Regions from separate parts of the Homo sapiens genome. Here all the other regions are reported to be linked to region 3. The links are microRNA targets in miRTarBase. Many come from high-throughput screens and were not tested one by one. Region 3 holds a microRNA gene; each other region holds the end of a gene's coding sequence.
What was found. Region 3 holds the annotated microRNA hsa-miR-139-3p (UGGAGACGCGGCCCUGUUGGAGU, at 798-820, shown strand). A microRNA usually pairs through its seed, bases 2 to 8, with sites in the 3' UTR of a target mRNA and lowers its output. Matches are read on the target gene's strand: a 7mer-m8 pairs with bases 2 to 8, a 7mer-A1 pairs with bases 2 to 7 and ends in A, and an 8mer does both.

Region 1 (4,976 bases), not on the chromosome of region 3:
ACCCTCCTCAGTCCCATGGAAAGAGGGCTTGGCTCTCTAAAGTTGGGGCACACTTAGGAGGATTGGCATGTGTCAACCCCTGTACAAATCACTGTGGTTGAGCCTGGGGCCCCAAGTGAAGGGAATTCCCAGGGCTGGTTTTCGTGAAGCTGTAGGCTTGGGGTTGGATTTTTGGACACACAGCCCTTGCCTGGGGCCAGGGCCGGGCAGAAGTCTGGGGCAGGGGTGAGAGCAGGGAGGGCTTCCTGGAGGAGGTGGGTTGCAAAGACACAGGGAAGGACTGGCCAAGCCAAGGCCTGTGAGGGGCAGCGGCTGTGAGTGATGGCCATGGACAACGGGCACAGTGGGGGCCGGGACTGCATGTGGCGGGTCGTCCACGCCGGGCCAGGCCGCAGCACCCTGATTCCCTCTGTCCCCAGGATGGCCCAGCTGAGGCTGGTGCTGGGGCTCCACACCCTGGACAGCCCCGGTCTCACCTTCCACATCAAGGCAGCCATCCAGCACCCTCGCTACAAGCCCGTCCCTGCCCTGGAGAACGACCTCGCGCTGCTTCAGGTGTGCAGGGACGGGACAGGGAGAACTGGGCACCCTCCTGTCCCCCACGGGTGCCCCTCACCCCCACTGCGCCCTCCCCCCGCTGCCGACCCTCCCCCCGCACTGCTGCCCCTCCCCCCGCACTACTGCCCCCTCCCCCATTGCCCACCCTCCCCCCACTGCCACCCCTCCCCCCGCTGCCGCCCCCCGCCCCCGCACTCTCACCCCCTCCCCCTGCTCACCTGCCCCTTCCTGTCACTCGTAGCTGGACGGGAAAGTGAAGCCCAGCCGGACCATCCGGCCGTTGGCCCTGCCCAGTAAGCGCCAGGTGGTGGCAGCAGGGACTCGGTGCAGCATGGCCGGCTGGGGGCTGACCCACCAGGGCGGGCGCCTGTCCCGGGTGCTGCGGGAGCTGGACCTCCAAGTGCTGGACACCCGCATGTGTAACAACAGCCGCTTCTGGAACGGCAGCCTCTCCCCCAGCATGGTCTGCCTGGCGGCCGACTCCAAGGACCAGGCTCCCTGCAAGGTGAGGGGCGCCCGGGTGGGGCTGGGGGAATGAGGCTGGCGGGAGGGCCGGGGCCAGGGCAGCCGCCGGGCAGGTTCCTGGCTCTCCCGTTCTCTGGGGAGTCCTGTCAGGGGCTGGGGGGCGGGGAAGCACTGGCAGGGGTCCCGTTTCTCAGGTGCAGAAACTGAGGCTCAGACAGGTTTAGCAACCTGCGCAAGACCACACAGCCGGGAAGCGGCAGAGCTGTGACTTCTGCTCCAGCCAAGACGGTCCGGCGGGGGAAGAAGGAGCAGGGTTCACAGGGCCAGCGGGAGATGGGGAGGGGACACGCGTGGGCCGGGAGCAGCCCCTGTGTCTCCTTGAGCCTGGGGATAACAGGCCTGGCCCTGCTCCCCTCGGCGGGCCCTGCTCCCCTCGTCCCCTCAGCAGGTGCAGAGGCTGAGCTGCGGTGTGTCGTCCCTGCAGGGTGACTCGGGCGGGCCCCTGGTGTGTGGCAAAGGCCGGGTGTTGGCCAGAGTCCTGTCCTTCAGCTCCAGGGTCTGCACTGACATCTTCAAGCCTCCCGTGGCCACCGCTGTGGCGCCTTACGTGTCCTGGATCAGGAAGGTCACCGGCCGATCGGCCTGATGCCCTGGGGTGATGGGGACCCCCTCGCTGTCTCCACAGGACCCTTCCCCTCCAGGGGTGCAGTGGGGTGGGTGAGGACGGGTGGGAGGGACAGGGAGGGACCAATAAATCATAATGAAGAAACGCTCAGAGCCCGCCTGAGTCCCAGCCCACCTCTGTCCATGCTGGCTGTGGGGCTTCCGACAAACCTGTTTCCCTCAGCCTCCCGAGTAACTGGGTCTACAGGCGCCCGCCACCACGCCAGGCTAACTTTTGGTATTTTTAGTAGAGAAGGGGTTTCTCCATGTTTGTCAGGCTGGTCTCCAACTCTTGACCTTGTGATCTGCCCACCTCGGCCTCCCAAAGTGCTGGGATTACAGGCGTGAGCCACCGCGCCCGGCCCTTCCCTGTTTTAAAAAGGGAGGTTGTGGATCCCAAGGCTTCTCCCAGGAGGGGGCGGCGTTGGCCAGGACTGGAGCGGTGGCCGGGTCTGCAGGCTGGCAGGGGTGGGCGGCCGTCCTCCCCGCGTGGCTCCTGGGGCTGGGCCTTGAACAGCATCCCAGGATCTTCTTTTTTAGTAACAGCTTTTATCAAGTTACAACTCACATAGCAGATGAGTCTCCCTGTAAACTGCGATTCAGGGGCCTTTGGTACCTGCACAGAGCTGGGCAACCACCACCGTGACATGTCACCCCAGCACCCCGAAAACAGGCCCGTCCCCAGTCACCCCAGCACCCCGAAAACAGGCCCGTCCCCAGTCACCCCAGCACCCCGAAAACAGGCCCGTCCCCAGTCACCCCAGCACCCCGAAAACAGGCCCGTCCCCAGTCACCCCAGCACCCCGAAAACAGGCCTGTCCCCTGTCACCCCAGCACCCTGAAAACAGTCCTGTCACCCCAGCACCCCGAAAACAGCCCTGTCCCCACTGTCACCCCAGCACCCCGAAAACAGGCCTGTCCCCACTGTCACCCCAGCACCCCGAAAACAGGCCCGTCCCCACTGTCACCCCAGCACCCCGAAAACAGGCCTGTCACCCCAGCACCCCGAAAACAGGCCTGTCCCCCTGTCACCCCAGCACCCCGAAAACAGGCCTGTCCCCACTGTCACCCCAGCACCCCGAAAACAGCCCTGTCCCCACTGTCACCCCAGCACCCCGAAAACAGGCCCGTCCCCACTGTCATCCCAGCAGCCCGAAAACAGGCCTGTCCCCACTGTCACCCCAGCAGCCCGAAAACAGGCCCCATCTCTATCACCCCAGCACCCCAAAAGGAAGCCCCACCCCCATTGTCATTCCAGCACCCCGAAAATAGACTCTGTCCCCACTGTCACCCCAGCACCCCAAAAGGAGGCTCGTCCCCATCGGCCGTCACTCCCCGTCCCCACCCCAGCCCCGGTGCCCTCACATCCCCTCCCTGTCTCTGGATGGGCCTGTGCTGACATTTCATGGACAGGGGATCACGCTGCGTGGCCTTCTGTGTCTGGCGTCTCCCGCTGAGCGTGACGTCCTCAAGCTGCACCCGCGCGCTGGCTGGGTCCGAGCCGTGCTCCTGCTCCGGGGGGTCGAGCTCCAGCTCGAGGGGGGCCTCGCTGCGTTTGTGGGTGCGTCCCTGGGTGCACATCTGGGCGGCTTCGTCTGCGTCCGTCCGTCTGAAGCTTTGCTGGGAGCCGCCTGTGTGCGTTTTCGTGTGGACCTACCTGCTCCTTCCTCCCTCCAGATTAGACCCGTGGGAGTGGCATCTCGGGCTGTTCAGTGACTCTGTTTCAGCGCCGCGCTGTTTTCCTGCAGAATCTTTTAATTTCACTACCAACTCTTTCTTTCTTTTCTTTTCTTTCTTCCCTTTCTTCCCCTTCTTCTCTTTCCCTCCCTTCCCCTTCTTCTCTTTCCCTCCCTTCCCCTTCTCTCCCCTCCCCTCCCCTCCTCTCTCTTTCTTTCTTTCCTTTCTTTCCTTTCTTCCCCGTCTCCCCTTCCCCTCCCCTCCCCTCTCCTCCCCTCCCCTCTCCTCCCCTCCTCTCTTTCTTTCTTTCTTTCTTTCTTTTCTTTTCTTTTTTTCTTTTATTTTCCTTTCTTTTCTTCTGATGGAGTCTCAGTGCGTCACCCGGGCTGGAGTGCAGTGGCACGATCTCGGCTCACTGCAAGCCATCTCAGGTTCAAGCGATGCTTGTGTCTCAGCCACCTGAGTAGCTGAGGGATCACAGACGTGCACCACCACGCCCAGCTAACTTTTTTTGTATTTTTAGTAGAGACTAATAGAAACACAGGTTTCACCACGTTGACCAGGCTGGTCTTGAACTCCTGACCTCAGGTGACCCGCCCACCTCGCCCTCCCAAAGTGCTGGGATTACAGGCATGAGCCACTGTGCCCACGTTAATGGTTTTTTATTATTTTATTTTATTTTTAGACAGTTCCCACTCTGTTGCCCAGGCTGGAGTGCAGCCTCAGCCTCCCAAGTAGCTGGAATCATAGGGGTCCACCACCAAGCCCAGCTAATTTTTTTGGATTTTTACTAGAGACGGGGTTTCACCATATTGGTCAGGCTGGTCTCGAACTCCTGACCTCAAATAATCCACCCGCCTCGGCTTCCCAAAGTGCTGGGATTACAGGTATGAGCCACTGTGCCCGGCCGGGTTAGTGTTGTAATAGACTTAATTTTTAAAACCATTTTTGGTCTGCAGGAGATGTGTGGCGGCTGTATCCACAGGGTCCCCCGCGTCCCCGCCCCCAGGCTCCTGGCCGCTCCCCTCTCCAGTCAGCAGGAGTCACGGCTGACGAACTCACATGAATGCGTGATTAACTACTAAGGACCTACTCTTGGCTCGGATTTCCTCAGTTTCCCCTAATGTCTCTTCCTGCACAGGGTCCCACCCGGGACCGAACCTGCCGTTTCGCCGCAGCCTCTCCTCGGCACCCCCAGGCTCCGACCGTTTCTCAGAACTCCGTGTCTGGAGGCCGGCTGGACGGGATTTATGTAGATTACGGGTGTGGACCACTGCACCCGCCAGCTATCTCATGTTTTTCTCTCGATTGGACTGGAGTCACAGTGTTTTTGGGAGAGGCAAGTGCATTTTTAATCTTTAACTTTTTTAATTTTTTTATGTTATTTTTTTAGAGACTCCTGGGCTCCAGCAATCCTCCCACCTCAGCCTCCTAAAGGATTACAGGTGTGAGCCACCGCGCCCGGCCTAATCTTTAACTTTTTATGGCATCATTGGCAGTGGAAGGTTCTCAGGTCACAAGTGAAGAGCCTCATAACTCACAAACCAGGCACGCCCCTGTTCCCGGCACCTGGGTCCAGACACAACCCCCTGCCCCGAAGCCCCTCCTTAGCC
Region 2 (4,976 bases), not on the chromosome of region 3:
TAAACCCAAATTCCCTAGCTGTGATGATACCAGGAACATCCTTCAGGGAAATCTCCCTTTGTTATCCACACTGGTAGAGCTCCCAGCTCAATCCACAACTGCACACCCCCTCACTCTAAGAGTCACTCTTCCCATGGTGTAGCCAACATCCACCCTCTTACTCTAGACGTGGCAGCCCTCCTAGATCCACCCAACCGTTGACTTACGTTCAAAGGCCATCACCCACCCCAGCACCATCTTCCAGGAACTGGCCTCTCCCCCATCAGTCCCCGCCCCTCTTCTGAGAGCACCCAATGGGTGGAGTCGGGGCTGCGGTGGGAGGGGCCTGAGGCGGGCACATTTAAAGAAAGGCAGCCGGCGAAAAGAGGCAAGAGAGGAGAAGAAAGAGAAACCAGGGGGGCGAGGCGCCGTCCAATGACAAAGCCCAGGGGTGGGCGCCGGCCGCCATCTTGTACCGGGCAGCAGGATATTCGCCCGCGTCCTCCGCCCTCGGAGGGGGAGGGGCGGCGGCGGAGGCGAGAAAAGTAGCGAGAGACGCCAGCAGCAGCCGCCGCCGCGGAGCCAACGCGGACTGGGACGGCGGCGGCAGTAGTGGGACCCGGCGAGCGTGAGTGGCCCGGAGCGGCCTTCGATGCGGCGCAGTATGAAGAGGCGGCGGCGCCGGCGCCCGGTCGCCCCGGCCACGGCCGCCCGGGGCGGCGACTTTAGGGCAGAAGACGGGGCTGGGTTGGAGGCGCGGGAGGAGAAGGTGGTGTACTCGCGGTCGCAACTGTCGCTGGCTGACAGCACCAAGGCGCTGGGCGACGCCTTCAAGCTCTTCATGCCCCGCAGCACGGAGTTCATGAGCTCGGACGCGGAGCTCTGGAGCTTCCTCTGCAGCCTCAAGCACCAGTTCTCCCCGCACATCCTGCGCAGCAAGGACGTCTACGGCTACTCCTCCTGCCGGGCCCTGGTACCCGACCCCCCGGGGCCCCCTACAGCCCGCGGCCAGGCGCGCCGGCCGGTTCCGCGCGCAGCGGCCAGGAGGAGGCGCCGCGGAGCCCGGGCGGCCGCTGCCCGCAGGAGGAAGCCCCGGCCGCCACCCCCACCGCCGCCGCCCCCCGAGGAGAGCTGCCCGGCCAAGCCCGTGGCCCCCGGGCCCTGCTTCGGGGGCCGCACCTTGGAGGAGATCTGGAGGGCGGCCACCCCGACGCTGACCACCTTCCCCACCATCCGCGTCGGCAGCGACGTGTGGGGCGAGCGCAGCCTGGCGGCAGCGCGGCGCAGGGCGCGCCAGGTCCTGCGAGTGAACCTGGAACCCATGGTGAGGCTCCGCCGCTTCCCGGTGCCCCGGGCATGAGGTGCGGCCTCCAGGGCGCCTCCTGCCGGCCCCGACCTTGGGACAGGCCTTCCGCCCGGAGGAATGAACAAGTGTCAGTCGAGTGTTTACAGATCCGGCCAGGACCCCGGCCCCCAATGCACTTTACGCGCGAAGAAGTTGCCGGATGGTTGTCCCTGTCCCGGGCCGCGGCGCGGTCGTCTTGGACGCTGGGGCAGGTGTGCCCTCTGCTGCCTCCCGTACCCGGCCTGCGGAGGGAGGGGACAGCTGGACCCGCAGGGGAGGTCCCTTTCTTCCTGACCACCGATTGAGACGTCTCCAGGACCTTAGGGGCAGATCCGTTTTCTCACTGTTGGACTCTACCTCACTGGTCTGGAAGTCCTCCGAAGACATTATTTTTCCAAAGGAATTTGGTTTCGTGCTTGTGTAATAAAGCCAGAATTTACTTGTTCTTTATCTCCCCCTTTTTCTATTTCACTGTCACCCCTCTTTGTGGACAGAAGTTCGAACATGTGGTGTTGCACTAGTTTGTGCTCAGGGTATTCTGAAGCCCACTCGTTTCCTAATTTTTACTGGATTCCAAAGCTTTGATCGAGGATATTTTTTAAGAGGTTCAAGCTTGTGACTGTTAGTAGTGCAAGGATTTGTATGGGCTCAGTGATTACAAACAAAGACATGCAAAATACAACTGTTTAAACATTTTCAAGGTATTTTTAAAGGTTTTGTATTGAAACAATGTTTATATTTACTGAGCTCCTAAAAATGGTAGAATACACATGAAAACTTTTGTTTAGGAAAAGTTAACTTGTTAAATTCTTTTGAATTGAATAAAAAAATGCATTGAAACCATATGGTGTGTGATTAAAAAAAATGAATAAATTGTGAAGAACTGGTTTTGGTTACAGGAGTCACTGGAATCCGACTGGAGATGATTTGGCCCCCTGTCCTGGTCTAACATACAAATCTAGGAATATTATGCGTTAAAGTATTTTAAAATACATTATCCTTGTAATGTATTTTACAAGGATAATGTATTTTAAAATGGGAGTTGCATAGGAGAGATGGATGTGTGTAAACATTATCACTAAAATGATAAACAGAATACCCATTAGAATTCTTAGAACTATTAATGATCAAGAGGGGTGGAGGCATTTCTTGGTATCAAATAACTGGTTAAGGTTACTTTGGGCGAAATCTATTTCCTTTTTGTTTTTGTTGTTGGATAACAAGAAATGTCTAGACTAATATTCATCAGTTTTACAAACATAATGAAAATTAGTTGATTTTTAGTTGATTTTTTTGTCCCAACATTTTTTTTAACCTTTTTGCCACTCATTATATGTTTGCAGTTCTAGGTCTTTGACAGCTGAAGACCACAGGAATCAAACAGGCGAGACACACAGAATACTGACCCTTCTTTACGCTTTTATAGTGTTTATACCATATGGCCCAGTGTGGAATTCTTGATTATCCAAGTGCCTTTGGTCATTTGTGGCAGGAAAACTTAATAGTTTTTAGCCAGCAGTGCCACAGCCAGCTTTTACTGCAATACCTAAAGGGTCAAGTAGTGTTTTTGTACCACTATTATTTCAAATTTAAGTATTCTGCCATGAAACGATCCATACTGGGCTGGAACTTGACATGTGAAATCTTTAATACTAAAGCTTATCTCTGCTTGGCAGCTTTTTAGGAGAATAATGAGAGTTACAATTTTGACTCTTGCGTTCCTAGAATTCAAATGGCATAGCTTTCTGAAATGAGTATTTCAAGTTTAGTAGTCCGTATAGGAGTGTTGTGACTTCAATTTCAGTGTTCTTGTTAAAAGAAATAATATGATATATATATACACACATATATATAACTTGATGCCAGTTTTCTAGTAAGCCTCAGTCTTTTATTCACTACTCAATGATAATGCATTGTACAAACACTGTCACATGAGTAAATAAAAATGAATAATTCCTTAGAAGATGGAGAGTGTTAAATTATATTTGTGATAGGAAGCTTAGACATATCTTTTGGTTATTAGCTTCCATTGCCAATTGTATTTCAGATGCATAGGGTTTTCTTCCCAAAAATATATTGTTAACTTTTATAGCTAACTAGCACCTGGAAAAAATGTATTTGTACAACTTTACTATTGTATATAGTTTTATAATAATGAAAAATAAACCCAATGGCCATATTAGAATGCAATTTCGACATACAGCTTATCTAGATAGTTTTCCAGAGGATTTTGAAATTTGGCTTAACTGGGAGGATAACTGCTCAGCACACCACTGAAACATAACCACTGACACCATTCATTTATTTTAACTGAGATTCTTGACATTTTTCTCTCCTATGCCTTGTTACTTTAGCATACTTGAACTCACATAAATGCTTCTTTGGATTACATGGGCTATCTGATTCCATTTTGGATCTGATTGTCCATCTTGAATTCAATATGGTATTCATCTGGACTATTCAAAAATTATGCCATTTCTAGTCTGTGAAATAAGATGTAAAAAATCTTTATTTTTGCCCTTTGGTAAAAACCTATGTGACAACTTTTAAAATGTGAAGCAACATCTAATATAGTTGACTGGTATACTAATAGGAAAGTGAAAGTATTTCATGGGTACTTTGTCACAGAATGTGAAAAGAAACTTGGCATAGTGGCCTTTATAATGAGGCATCCACTTACTCCTCTGAAGTGAAGTCTGTAGCTTAGCTTGTGTATAGTTTTTGAAAGAAATCTCATGATCTTCGTTCATTCTCTTGCCTTCTCTTTTATCTCATATGGCACAAGTAGAGGGGGAAGCCAGGAGGAAATTCATCACCTCGCTATGCTTTTATTTGATTTTTAATTCCTGAGTGCCTAAATGTGGTGACCGGCACCTCACATAACTTTTTGAGATTCTTGATGTCATTTTTATCCTTCCTGTCAACCAGCAATGTATTTTTATGTTACTAAAACCAGTAACGTCATAATTGTTGAGGGCAAGCTTCATTGTTGATAGTGCAAAGTGTCGCTGTTGTGATGTGTGTTTATTTTATTCAAGTTTGAATATTGACAAGTGTAACTTAAGCTGGTGACTGACACCTATTGATCTGCTGTGTGCAAATGATAGTACTATTTTTTAGAAAACTCTTAAGTAAATTTTAAAAATATTTGAATACAAAATATCTGAGCAATTTTGAACTCAAAAGTTTTTCATTGTTTTAAGGATTGCCACAGGACTCTTTAATGGTTTTTAATGGACATACATGCCTAATATTTATTGGTGTGTTTAAAATATTTTTTGATAGAGTGTTATGTCTTAAGCGCATTAGAAAACAATTGTTTGTAATGGAATCAAAGTGTTTCCCTGGACAGTTTGATGTGCTTATGGTTGAGATTTATAATCTGCTTGTACTTTGCTTTTTAACTTATTAACTGTAAATAAATTTTAGAGAATACATAGTGTCTAGTTTTTCTAATGATTTGAACATTTTTGAAATGGTATTTTGTATTTGTATGTGACTCAGAAAACATCTTAATTTACAATTTGATAAATTTTGACTTTTTTGTGAACTTCAAATTCCCAGAAATCTCGAGATTTGTTTTTTGTGCTATCTCGGGAGTCTGTGTTCCATCAATTCTTTAATTATCTAGCGAATTTTTAGGATGGCGCTA
Region 3 (3,000 bases):
GAGCCCCCTCATCCATCCTGCTCAGGCTCTCTTTTGTGGCGCGACTCTGATTCACAGTGTGCCCAAATCTGCCTCCTTGTGACTGCCGCGAGCTGCCTCGTGGGCCCCAGGCCAGAGGACAAGGATAGCTAGAATGCCAGGTGACCAGGATGACTGTGATGGCATGGAGAGGGGGATGCTGTGATGTGTTTGGGAGGAAGTTTGTGGTGTCCAGGAGAATGTGGGCAGCAGAAATGGGACCACTCTCGGTTCTTCCCTGTAGATGAAGCAGCTGAAGGTGGGAGGGGGTGGGAGGAGACCTGAGCTGGCTCTGCCCCGCTTGATCTGATGTCTGCCTTGCAGGGCCATCCTCCCCCTCCCCACACTCAGCTCCTGCCTCCCTCCCTCTACCCACTCTGACTGTTCCCTCCTTTCCTGACTCCAGACTCTGGGTGAGGGACTGAGGTGATTCCAGTGAGTCAGGCCCTCAGGGAACTGATCGTGCAGGCAACTCTTGCCTGCCTTCTCCTGCTCTTTCCCTCTTCCCATTCCTTCATCCACCCCCAAACCTAGCTCCTGATGGATCCAAGGGTGCGGGGGACAACCGGGAGGTCATTTTGGAGGAGGCAGGAGCTGGAATAGAAGCTGGGACTGGCTTGGGAAGGGCGAGAGGCCGGGGCGGAGCTGGTTGTGGGCGCTGGAAGGGAGGAGCCAACAGTGTGGGGTCAGGCTCCTGTGGATGGGGACACCCTTGGGAGGCACTGGGACTGGCTCAGGTGTATTCTACAGTGCACGTGTCTCCAGTGTGGCTCGGAGGCTGGAGACGCGGCCCTGTTGGAGTAACAACTGAAGCCGGAGTCTGCGAAGGGTGGGCAGGAGGGTGGAGGGATGGGGGCATGGAGCGGGAGGGGGTAAGTAGAGGAGGGAGGGGAGGAAGAGAAAGAGGGAGGAGGAAAGGTCTCTGGCAGGTCCCTCCTTTAAGACTGGGCTCCTGCGCTGCGAGTGGCCCCGTCCATACTGCCTTGTTATCCATATCTCCCCACCACTAGTCTCCCTCTGTCCTTCCACCCCCAGCCTCTCCCCTCCATTGGGACCTTCCCTGGGGCGTCCCCTCATTGGCTGTTCTCACCTGAGCAAGGCCCCTCCCCTCCAGTCCTTAGCCTCTTCACCTGTACAATGGGATGACCCAAACAGGCACCTCTTGGGCTTGTAGGAGGATCCAAGATAGTGTCAGTGGGTCTCGAGGTGTGGTCCCCCGACCAGCAGCATCAGTGTCATCTAGGAATGTTTGGAAACGCAAGTTCTTGGACCTCGTCCCAGACCTACTGTATCAGAAACCCTGGGGGTGGGGCCAGCAATCTGCACTTTAACAAGCACTCTGGGTGGTTCTGGTGCACATGAAAATTGGGGAACGGCTGGTGGAAACCTCTAGCCACAGGAGGTGCTTGGGAAAGGTACCTTCCCCTCCCCAAAGCCTGATGCCTCACTCAAGCATGACACTGACAGTTGGGCTAGTTCAGCTGCGTTCTGGGTCTCTGTCTTGCCTCCTCCTTCAGACTAAGCCTCCCAAGGGTTGCCAAGCCTCTTTCCTCTATTCTCCTCACCCTGATCCAGCTCAGCCTCATTGAGAGAAGTCTGGGGCTGCAAGATCTTCGCACTCACAGGCAGTTCCTCTTTGCACATCCAAGGCACCAGTGTCTTTGAGAGGCGTCTCCTTGGCCAGGTGGCAGGCGTGGGTGTGTGGGGAGGAAGGAGGAGGAACCGCCTTGTTCTGCTTTCTTGTCTCTGACTCTGCAGGCTGGGGGTGCTGTAAGGCTGCGAGGAGGCATAGAGTCAGCTTGGGTGCTGGGCTGAGGCCAGGGGCCGAGGCTCAGCTGAAGCGGGCTTCTCTGGTCTGAGCCTACAGGATGCCTCCTTTGGGGCAGTTCTGCCAGTCACCCTGACTGGGCGGCTGTGCTTGCTAGTGCCAGACCCATGCTAGGCACAGAGGTCGATACGTTCTCCTGTGCTCTTGAAGGGCCCTGTCCTCTGGGAAGATAAGAGGCTGTGTATATTGCCCACCGGAACAGGAGGCAGGAAGCAAAAGAGGCGTAGATGACACTTGCCTGGCACCCCCTGTTTCCCCTCTAGCTGCCTTCCTGGGTTTCCCATTCTGTGGGCGCTTCTCTTGAGTTAGGTGCTTTCTCCCAGTGTTCTCAAGGTGACTATTTGGAGGTTTGTGGGAGGAGTGGGCTGGAGACACAGGAGTAGGTGGGGGCAGGAAGTATGCAGGAGAGAGATGGAGAGTGGGAGGAGAAGCTATGAGAGGAAGAGAGGACGCGGAGGTGGGAAAAGACGTCAAGACTCCTGGAGAGGAACAGGAGTGCAGCCTGGGACAGAGGTGGACGTCGGCCGGGGGAGGCAGGGAGGAAGGCAGGGAGGTCCACCCGAAAGGAAGGGAAGGGATGATGGACAGAGAATGAGAGGGCTCCGAGGTCCTGGGGGATCTAGAAGGACCCTTCCCTTTACAGAAGGGGACACCAAGGCCCAGAGAGAGAGGAGGGCCTCACAGAGGACCTAACACAAGCAGAGTTGCATGAATCAGTGTGAACGGACAGTCCCAAGAGCACAGCCGGACCTTGGGAGGTACTTGACTCTTGAGTTTGATGTTATTGCCTTCCTGTAGGCCAGTGTGAGGGGCACTGTGAGGCTTCCTTCCAGAGAAGGAGGCATGGAGCCAGTGCCAGGCAGTGGGGTGAGCCATAGGAGGACCTGTGGAGATGGGGAAAGGCATAGAGACTCATGAAGATGAAACAGGAAAGATCTTATGGCAGCGACCCCAACCCTCAGGAAGGGCGTTGGTCTTGTGCTTGTGGCTCCAAAGGGGATAAGACCAAGGTCTCTGGTTTCATAGAATCTTAGGCTTTAAGAACGAGTTAGAAGTAATTTAGTCCAGACCCTCTCCTCTCCCCAGATAAGTGCAGAAATGCAGATCTAGCCCACGGCTGAGCCCCAACCCTGGCTTCAGAGGAGGCCTGACTC
Region 4 (4,976 bases), not on the chromosome of region 3:
GGCCAAGGTGAGAGGATCACTTGAGCCCAGGAGTTCAAGGCCAGCCTGGGCAACATGGCAAAACCCATCTCTGCAAAAATCAGCTGGGGTCATGGTGGTGCATGTCTGTGGTCCCAGCTACTTTGGAGGATGAGGCAGCAGGACCGCTTGAGCCTGGGAGGTTGAGGCTGCAGCGAACCATGTTTGAGCCACTGCACTCCAGCCTGGGCAACAAAGTGAGACCCTGTCTCAAAAAAAAAAAAAAAGAAAGAAAGAAAAAAAAGAATGGCTTACTCTACCTAAGCTGTTTGTATAAAAAAGTGGGCCAGGAGCGGTGGCTCATGCCTGTAATCCCAGCACTTTGGGAGGTCGAGGCAGGCGGATCACAAGGTCAAGAGATGGAGACCAGCCTGGCCAATATGGTGAAACCCCGTCTCTACTAAAAATACAAAAATTAGCTGGGCGTGGTGGTGGCAGGCGCCTGTAGTCCCAGCTATTCAGGAAGCTGAGGCAGGAGAATTGCTTGAACCCAGGAGGCGGAGGTTACAGTAAGCCGAGATCACGCCACTGCACTCCAGCCTGGCGACAAAGCGAGACTCCGTCTCAATTAAAAAAAAAAAAAAAAAGGTGGTTTATGCTGAGCCCCTGCTTTCCTTTTGGGAGCCTGGGATTTGGGTAGGTGCCAGGCAGGGGGTGCCTATGTGACCATGCCCCAATAAAAACTTGATACCAGCCAGGTGCTCACGCCTGTAATCCCAGCAGTTTGGGAGGCTGAGGTGGGAGGATCACTTGAGGTCAGGAGTTCAAGATCAGCCTGGCCAACATGGTGAAACCCCATCCCTACTAAAAATACAAAAATTAGCCGAGCTTGCTGGTGCGCGCCTGTAGTTCCAGCTATTCGGGAAGCTGAGGCCCGAGGATCGCTTGAACCCAGGAGGTGGAGGCTGCAGTGAGCCAAGATCATGCCACTGCATTCCAGCCTGGGCGTCAGAGCAAGACCCCCCCCCCCCCGCCAAAAAAAAACCAAAACAACAACAACAACAAAAAAAACCTCTGGGTGCTGAGTCTCTAATTGAGCTTCCTTGGTCAGCAACATTTCGCATGTATTGTCACAACCCATTACTGTGAACCGAGCACATCTTGTGTGACTCCAATGAGAGAGAAGCCCTGGAAACTTGTGCCTGGGTCTCTCTGGGAGTTGGTCCTGCACACCATTTCTTTTTGCTGATTTTGCTCCATATCTTTTTGTTGTAATAAGTCAATCGTAGCCATGAATACAACCACATACTGAGTCTTGGGAGTCCTCCTAGCAAATCACTGGGCTTGGGGCTGGTATTGAGGACCATGACACACACACACATACATGACCTTTACCATGGGAACAATCCAGCTCACTGATGTCCCTATCTCACCACCATGTACCCTGAGGTCTATTAGATGGAAGTGCCAGTTAGAAATGCTTGGGGTGCAAGTAACCACACTGTCAAATAACTGGACTGAACAAACGGGAGATTATTTCCCTCCAACAAGACTGTTGGTGCGAGTTCAGCAGCTCAGCAATGCTGGGCCAAGCTGGAGTCTCTACCACGCTGTGGACTGACCCTAAGGTCCCAAGATGTCAGTCGCAGTTCCAGTCAACGCATATGTGGCAACAAATGGAGCTGAGAAGGAAGGGAGGGGCCGGAGCAAGAGCCTCTTTGCTGCTTCAGGTAACTTTGACATTTTCTGGTGACGCAGGCCACTGATAAGTGATTTTGGTTATTTACCCCCATCAATACTCAAAGCTTTTTCTCCTCTCTTGGGGCTCCCCTCAAATACTTAACATCACTTTTTGGTCTCTGAGCTGTTCCAGGGCTGGAATTTGTACCCTGGATGGGGCTGGGAGGAGACAGGGGTGGTCTGAGGGATGGAGATTCCGCCACACAGCAGGAGGCCCCAGGTCAGCCTTAACTTCCCGTTGCTCCTGCACCAGCTTGGGGCTCCAGGACTCAACACCTCTGCTCCCTGCTTTTAATAAACAACACAATGCACAGAAGGGTTGGGAATATCGCCCCCTGAGGAGGCAGCAGAGTCCTGCAGCCTAACATAGTGAACCCCCTGGGGGTCCGACCCAACATTCCCCCGCCAACTCCTCCACTGTCACTACCCTGGTGCAAGTCCCCATCACTGCGCTCAGAGGGGTCTCCTGCTGGGTCCCCTGCTTCTACCCCCACCCCCAATCTGTCCCCTTCAGCAGCCAGAGGGAGCCTCTATGACCAAGTCAGATCATGTTCCTCCTCTGCTTGACACCTTCTGGTCACCCCCACTCAGAAAAAAAGCCAAAGTCCTAACTGTGGCCCATGAAGCATCTGGCCTGTCTGACCTCATGTACTGTCACACTCTGGTCCAGCAAGACTCTGGCATACACAATGATCCTTCTGGAGCGCTCCAGCCTCAGTGCCTTTAGGCTGGCTTTCTCTCTGCCTGGAATGTTCTCCCCCTACACTATGACTCCCACTCACTTCATTCAGGTCTTTAAATGTCACCCTGAGCCAGGCGTGGTGGTTCATGCCTGTAATCCCAGCACTTTGGGAGGCTGAGGCGAGTGGATCGCTTGAGCCCAGGAGTTCAAGACCAGCCTGAGCAACATGGCGAGACCCCGTCTCTACTAAAAATACAAAAATTACCCGAGTGTGGTGGCACACACCTGTAGTCCCAGCTACTTGGGAGGCTTAAGTGAGGATCACTTGAGCCCTGGAGGTTGAGGCTGCAGTGAGCTATGGTCATGCCACTGCATTCCAACCTGGGTGACAGAGTGAGACCCTGTCTCAAAAACAAAAAAGTCACCCTGTCAGGATCATCTTCCCTGATGCTGTCACCATAAAGAGCCCACTCCCCCAACTTCTGCAGCTCTGTCTCCCATCCTTGCTTTATTTTCTTCATACCACTCATCATTAGCTGGCCTGTTCCATGTTTTTATCTACTGTCTCCGCTATGATGCAAGCCCAATGAAGGCAGGCATTTCCATCAGTTTAGGTCAGAGCAGTATCCCCAGTGCCTAGAACAGTTCCTGGCACACGGTCAGGGCTCACTAATGTCTATCGAATGCATAAGTGTGTAAAACAGTTAAGGCAGGGCCTGTAACCCAGCAGACATTCAATCAATGCTTGTGGAATGAATGAATCCGTCGATGCATGAATGCACAAATGAGTCAATGAACCCCGTTCCACCGTGTTCCTGGAGCTGCCCGCTGCCCTCTGCCCTGTCCGTCCCCGGCAGAGCTGGGAGCCGGCCCTCAGCATGACCACCGAAACTTTATTTACAACACGAGGCTGGAGTAAGAGGGGTGGGATGGAGGACAGCAGCAGGGCCGACAGGACCCTACTTCTGCTCCCGCCTCCAGACGATGACCATGCCGCTGGCGTCACTGGAGGCCAGTAGGCTCTCGTCGCAGTTGAAGCTGACATCAAGCACAGGTGCACTGTGGCCCTGCAGCTTGTTGACAGCAGCCTTGGCCGCCCGCTCCACATCAAAGAAGTGCACGCACATGTCCTCACTGCCCGTCACTGTCGGGGTGAGAGGGAGAGGCCATCGGGAGGCGCCTGGGGTGCCCCTGGTGGGAAGTCCCTGAGGTGTCTGAGGTGTTGAAGGGTGTATGTCCGAGGTGTGAGGTCCTAGCATGGCTTGGGGAGGTTTGAGGGGGCCCCATCCCTAGATGGGAGGTCACCTGGCTGTTTTGGTACTGTGTGCAGAATGCGAGGTCTCTGGGCTGTTTGGGGAGTTAGTGCGTTCAAAGTGTGAGTTTTCATCACTTCTCGGCCTTTTGGCCGAGATCAAGTGCAAACTGTGAGTTCTCTGAGCTGTTTGGAGCTGTGAGTTCCACAGTGAGGCTGTTGGGGCAGGAGGGGTCATGAGGTCCAGGAAGTCAGGGCATCGGTGTCGTGATGTCTGAGCCAGGTTGGCACCAGCCCTGGTTCCTGCCCCTCCCCAGCCACCCAGATCCCCTGTCCCTACAGGACTCACCCACGCAGGCCCCCTGGCGGAAGGACATGAGGGGACAGAAGATGCTGCGCACAGGATGTGAGCTCTGCTCGATGGGGAAGCTTCTCTTCAGCTGCAGGGTCCCCTCGTTGTCTACCACCCTGAGAGGATGAGAGAGTGGGTCAAAACACAGCCCCAGCCCTAGCAGGGAGACAAGTTGTGGGCCTGTGTCCCCACCCCTGTGCCTAAGTTCTTTACAGGGTTCATGAAACCCATATTTTTTTTTTTGTTTTTGAGACAGGATCTCACTCTGTCACCCAGGCTGGAGTGTAGTGGTGCGATCACGGCTCACTGCAGCCTCAACCTCCTAGGCTCAAGTGATCCTCCCGCCTCAGTCTCCCGAGTAGCCGGGACTACCTATAGGCACACACCACACCCAGCTTATGAAACCCAATTCTGAGATGACTACATAAACTATAAGTAGGGGCTGATGTGTGAGTTACTGATGGTTCAGAAACTGTCTCTGTTGATATAAATGGGAGCCTCTGCAGTTTCATTCACTAGTTTTTCTTTGTAAGGGTCTCTAAAAGATCCTGGTATTAAGATAAGCACAAAGAGAGGAAATGAACACACCATGGTATGCCCACACTGTGGAAAACTGCACAGCCCTTAGAGAGAATAAAACACTGTCCCCACAGGTAACCTGGGGGGGTTTCCACAAGGCATTGCCTGGTGAGAAACTCGAAATGTAGGAAAGGCCATTTCTTTTTTCTTTCTTTTTTTAAGAGATGGAGTCTGGCTCTGTCACCCAGGCTGGAGTGCAATGGCACGATCTCGCCTCGCTGCAACCTCCGCCTCCCAAGTTCAAGCAATTCTCCAGCCTCAGCCTCCCAAGTAGCTGGGATTATAGGCGCCTGCCACCATGCCCAGCTAATTTTTGTATTTTTAGTAGAGACGGGGATTCACCATGTTGGCCAGGCTGGTCTTGAACTCCTGACCTCAGGTGATCCACCCGCCTTGGCCTCCCAAAGTGCTGA
Region 5 (4,976 bases), not on the chromosome of region 3:
GCACAGAAAAGGCCACATCCTTCCTCCCCAGAAGCAGGCACTGCTTTGTTGGTTCAGTCTAACCAACAAAGGATGTGGTAGGTAAAAGGTTCTTACAACGCTATTTGATTGACTTCTATGAGACCATTGAGTTCCTCTTAGAAGAAAAGAATGGGAAAACAAAAGGTTTAGAAAATCAGAAAATGTGAGATTAGCAATGAAAAGGGAACACTGAATGTTCTTTTTTATTTCCTTTAAAATCAATTTAAATATTAATTTTATTCCAAGCTAAAGTGGAATTTCAAGATAATCACTTCTGCTCTGGTCTTACCTTACGTGCCCCACTGCAATTTCAGGTCTCGAGTCAGAGAACAGACTATTTCCTCTTCCCCTTAATTAACCTCCATCCATTTGCTTGATTGTTTGTGGCTCCTTCTATAAGGGATGGGTGGAGGTGCCTTACAGTGAAAAGACAGGTATACATACACACACACTGTATATATATAGATTGGAAATTCAAAGGCATGACATTCCTGGGAACCAAAAAGCCTGTCCAAAGATTAGCTCCATAGCTAGCTCAAGGGCTTTCAAATGCCAGAAAAGAGAACTAGGGCAGCCAGAAGACTTGGCCCCACAATTCAAGTATTAACACTGAGCAATTCTGTGTTATAATTTGCAGCAGTTAGAGGAAATCCCAAAGTCCACGTTTTTGTTATTTCAGTAAATTTTTTTGGATCTCACTCTGTCACCCAGGCGGGAGTGCAGTGGTGTCACCACGGCTCACTGCAACCTCAGACTCCTGGGCTCAAGCGATCCTCCTGCCTCAGCCTCCTGAGTAGCTGGGACTACAAGTGCACGCCACCATGCCCGGCTAATTTTTAAAACTTTTTTTGCAGACATGGGGTCTCGCTATGTTGCCAGGGCTGGTCTTGAAGACCTCCCAAAGTTTAGTAATCTTATATGAACTGCTTTTACTTTTCTGCATTGTACCCAGAAGGTGATGTTTTACTTAATATTTAGTCAGTTATTTTAACCAGAAACTTTTAATACTAAGCAAGGGGGATTTCTTCCTTTCTATCACAATTATACTACATTCCATGTGGACAACTGTATCTCTGGCAGTTAATTCTAGAGGTGGAAATTAGGGAAGGGGGTAGTATGGAAGCATACAGCATTTACAAAACTGGCAAAAAATAAAATAAGTCAAGGGGAGGCTCAGATTCTTTCTTTGGACAAAGGTGGGCTTTGAGGAAAGATCCTCACTCATCAGAGGCCGAGCCCTACACTAACCACAGTAATTTGTATTGATACCCAATTTAGTTCAGGAGCTATAAAAATGTATGTTTGCGGCCAGGCGTGGTGGTTCATGCCTGTAATACCAGCACTTTGGGAGGCCAAGGCGGGTGGATCACGAGGTCATGAGATCGAGACCATCCTGGCTAACACGGTGAAACCCCATCTCTACTAAAAATACAAAAAATTAGCTGGGCACGGTGGCGGATACCTGTAGTCCCAGCTACTCCAGAGGCTGAGGCAGGAGAATGGCGTGAACCCGGGAGGCGGAGCTTGCAGTGAGTCGAGATAGCGCCACTACACTCCCGCCTGGGAGAAAGAGTGAGACTCCGTCTCAAAAAAAAAAAAAAGTATGTTTGCATTATTGCACATAAAAATTAAAAATTGAGAGCTATTTGTATTCATCTATTGAGAGAAACGGTCTCTGGGGGTTAGGATGGGGACCTGTCCCCATTATAGACCCGTTCTGGTCTATAATTTACCTAAGACGAGAGCAGAAAGGGTTTTAAATGCTGATCCTAAGTTGTCGTCGGAGGGCAGTACCCCAGAGGACAGGGGAATCATTCCTAACACTGGCAGGGGCCAGAGGCTGACAGCTGGCATTGAACACCTGAATGTCAGGATATTACTCGCCTCTCTCTAATTCTTCCCAATAGAGCGGATACACTCTGGACTCCCTGGGGTGGAGCAGCTACATGGGCAGTTTGTACTTGTTCCTCTTGTCTCTTCATCTGCCCATAAGCCCAAGGCACTCAGAGTCTTCCCTCACTGACACCCAGCAAGCCGGTGAACACACCGGCCCACTGCATTGGGAAGCCCTTTCCTTTTGCTAAGGACTGCATTCGTCTATGCTGCATCTTGAGGCTGTGCAGTATCACCTCCCCTCCTCCATGGTTTTTCTTCTCTAGGCCTAGCAGGCAAGGGAGAAGGAGAGATGCCAGAAGCCTCTGTCTTTCCTTCCCCATTCGTTTCTTACTGAGTCTTGGAGTTAAATTGTTAGTTAGTGCCGGGCGTGTGGCTCACACCTGTAATCTCAGCACTTTGGGAGGCAAAGGTGGGCGAATCAACTGAGATCAGGAGTTTGAAACCACCCTGGCCAACATGGTGAAACTCCATCTCTACTAAACATACAAAAATTACCTGGGCGTGGTGGGGGGGCCCTGTGGTCCCAGCTACATGGGAGGCTGAGGCAGGAGAATCACTTGAACCCGGGAGGCAGAGGTTGCAGTGAGCTGAGATCACGCCACTTCCCTCCAGCCTGGGCAACAGAGTGGGAGTCCATCTCAAAAAAAAAAAAAAAAAAAAGAGGAAAGAATGCCAATTCATGATTTAAAAGTAAAATCAAATAGACTCCAGCTGTCAACTTAGCATATTCACAGTAGGTCCAGCACCGCTTATATCTAATGTTTCATAGTTCATAATGGAGTAACATTCATAGTTACTGAAGTTTAGATAAAAGAAGTGTCACCCTCTATGGCAACCCCTCCCCTGAAACACACATGGACTCTAGTCTAGCCATGGGCTCAATACTGTTTTAAGCATTGCTACTACACTACCACCAAATCTCAGTTTCTAACAGGGGGCAAAGAGCATTTTTAGAAGACGCTTAGTAACAGAAAAATTAACCAAGGGAAGAACAATCTTAATTACGGGATATTTTTACTGGAATGTAGACATTACTTTTGAATATATAGGACAATAGAAATTGCATCAAAGCAATGCTGCCTAACAGACACAGCAGGAAACTTATTGGCATGGCCAGGCTAGTATATTTTCTCATTAGTATATCAACTAATTATAGGAAAAGTACTGTTTCTAAAGTGCTTGAAACATTTGCCTACGTCACTGTTCTCTTTTTCAATGACCTCCTTCATAAAGTCAAACTCTAGCCCAAACTTAAGCCCATCTCACTGCATATTGTAAAGAATGGATTCTGAATGAATTAACAGAAATGCTTTTATATAGGAGGTTGCAGAGATTCTCTTGCAGTCAATGTCTAGAGGAGCTGACCCTCAGGCATCACTCAGAGGAAGTCCCAGCCAAGATTCACAGATCTGTATGTAGCCTTCGGTCAATATCACAGTGTACATCAGGAGTCTCAAGTTCATTGCACAGAACTGGTCCTGTAGCAGGGAAGACTCAGAATTCCTGAGTTTTCTCCTTATGGTGACTCCTCAGGGATAGCCACCATCTTAAATCCAGGAATGGGGCCCAGCTGGGAATGGAGAAAGTTGCAGGCCCACATGCTCCCTGGACGGAAGTCACACGGAGCCTCTGTGCGGGCACCTGAGAAGCTGCCAGAACACCTGCCCAGCAGCAGTGCATCCTCCCCACTCAGTGTCCATCTGCCATCTAGACATGGAGGAGGAAAAGAAAAGAGACAAATATGAACACACTTTGGTTTTCCCACTGTGCATCTCTATGCACAGCTCACACGCACACCCATGGGAGGAGGCGAGGGGGAGCAGCATGGAAGCTCAGCCACCCCTCTGTGTGTGGCCAGGGCAGCCATCACTGGTCCTGCTCTTTTCCTGGGAAGGCATCCCCCATGCTACCTGGAGGTACAGGGTTAGTCATGCCTTTCACCGCTGAGTGTGCTCTGCTGAGCCAAGGACAACCTCCACCCACACTCCCTTTGACTCCCCTCATCCCCAGCTGTTCTTCGTGACTCTGACCCATCCTCCCCTCCATTCCAGTCATTTCTCAAAAATGACACCCTCACATACCACACCGCTGAGAAGGAGAGGAATGTGAGAATGATCACAACAGCCAGGGAACCCAGTCCAACACCCGCCATCTGCAGCAGCATGAGTGACGAATCTGTGGGACAAAACCACAGGCTTAGCCCAGAGTGCACGGCATCACCACCTCCCAGGAGGCACACACCCCACTGTGCTCAATCCATTTTAACCCAGAGCTTGGCCCCATTTAACAAAGAATCCCAAGAATGCCCAACATGCCTGTGTGTCCCCTGAGTTGGCCCTGTGGATATGCAGCCTCAGGAAATTACAGTTACAAGGTATTTCTGAAAAGGAAGTGTAAAGCCAGACCATGTTAAAGTTACAAGGGAGAAAACAGCTAATCTTGTTGAGCACACAAATACTATGCAACGTGTTACATTTTTTGTTGGTCCTCTCACAATCAATTACATTTGATAGATTTTTATGGGCCGTTTTCTTTTGCATGGAGGGACAAGTCATTATGATATTATTTGAATTTGGTTTCCAAAACTGATAGCCCTGATGGTCAGATAGAGCAAAGGAATATCCTTTGTTGAGTCACCTGTCATTTTCTCCATACCTCAACAAGGGTCATACTTCCCTGCTCAGGTCAGCAGGTTTACTGAGAGGATAAAAGTACTTTGAAAGACATACTTTCTATTTGGGGACCATCACATGCCAACTCCAGGGAGATCCCCGATTATAAACTAAAAAACACTCACAGTTGAGTTGCACATGTGGGCCAAGTGACTGACTTAGAGAATCATGTTCTAGATTAGAGCAAAAATTTCATTTTAATTTGCAAACACTTACTTAGCACTTACTATGTGCCAGACACTGTTCCAAGCACCTCACAAATATTCACTCATTTAGGCTTCTAACCAGCCTTCACATTGGGTACTATTATTATTCCCTTAAGGAACCAAGGTGGGAGTGGCTAAGTACAACTCAGGTCTTTACAGCCAGGTTAAGAGGAGTGCATTT

Region 1: miRTarBase lists GZMM as a target of hsa-miR-139-3p. Seed matches in the 3' UTR shown: 7mer-A1 at 1,699-1,705.
Region 2: the mRNA of CCDC71L is a reported target of hsa-miR-139-3p. Seed matches in the 3' UTR shown: 8mer at 1,632-1,639.
Region 4: miRTarBase lists WDR13 as a target of hsa-miR-139-3p. Seed matches in the 3' UTR shown: 7mer-A1 at 379-385.
Region 5: the mRNA of SUSD1 is a reported target of hsa-miR-139-3p. The part of its 3' UTR that is shown has no 7-base or 8-base seed match.

Annotation. Positions count from the first base shown.
Region 1 is chr19:548,123-553,098 of GRCh38, forward strand. It overlaps GZMM (granzyme M), which reads left to right. Exons shown (of 5, transcript NM_005317.4): 3 at 420-555; 4 at 800-1,063; 5 at 1,508-1,800. The coding sequence ends at 1,669. Among named protein-coding and RNA genes, the nearest start is that of GZMM, 6.6 kb to the left of the region's middle.
Region 2 is chr7:106,656,552-106,661,527 of GRCh38, reverse strand. CCDC71L (coiled-coil domain containing 71 like) reads left to right here and starts at 370. Exons shown (of 1, transcript NM_175884.6): 1 at 370-4,976. The coding sequence starts at 632. The coding sequence ends at 1,339. RefSeq lists a silencer at 927-1,196 and an enhancer at 1,547-1,596.
Region 3 is chr11:72,612,886-72,615,885 of GRCh38, reverse strand. It overlaps MIR139 (microRNA 139), which reads left to right and starts at 756; the gene lies at 756-823. All of the region lies in intron 2 of PDE2A (phosphodiesterase 2A), which reads left to right. It overlaps LOC105369377 (a long non-coding RNA gene), which reads right to left. Exons shown (of 4, transcript XR_001748292.2): 2 at 1,584-1,794; 3 at 1,149-1,257. RefSeq lists an enhancer at 1,749-1,848.
Region 4 is chrX:48,603,396-48,608,371 of GRCh38, reverse strand. It overlaps WDR13 (WD repeat domain 13), which reads right to left. Exons shown (of 10, transcript NM_001347217.2): 9 at 3,982-4,100; 10 at 1-3,524. The coding sequence ends at 3,340. Among named protein-coding and RNA genes, the nearest start is that of WDR13, 8.4 kb to the right of the region's middle. RefSeq lists a silencer at 1,937-2,231.
Region 5 is chr9:112,037,869-112,042,844 of GRCh38, forward strand. It overlaps SUSD1 (sushi domain containing 1), which reads right to left. Exons shown (of 17, transcript NM_022486.5): 16 at 3,999-4,092; 17 at 2,915-3,624. The coding sequence ends at 3,624. LINC02977 (long intergenic non-protein coding RNA 2977) reads right to left here and starts at 2,556. Exons shown (of 3, transcript NR_186812.1): 1 at 311-2,556. RefSeq lists enhancers at 3,164-3,803, 3,199-4,398, 3,804-4,442, 4,554-4,603, 4,694-4,763.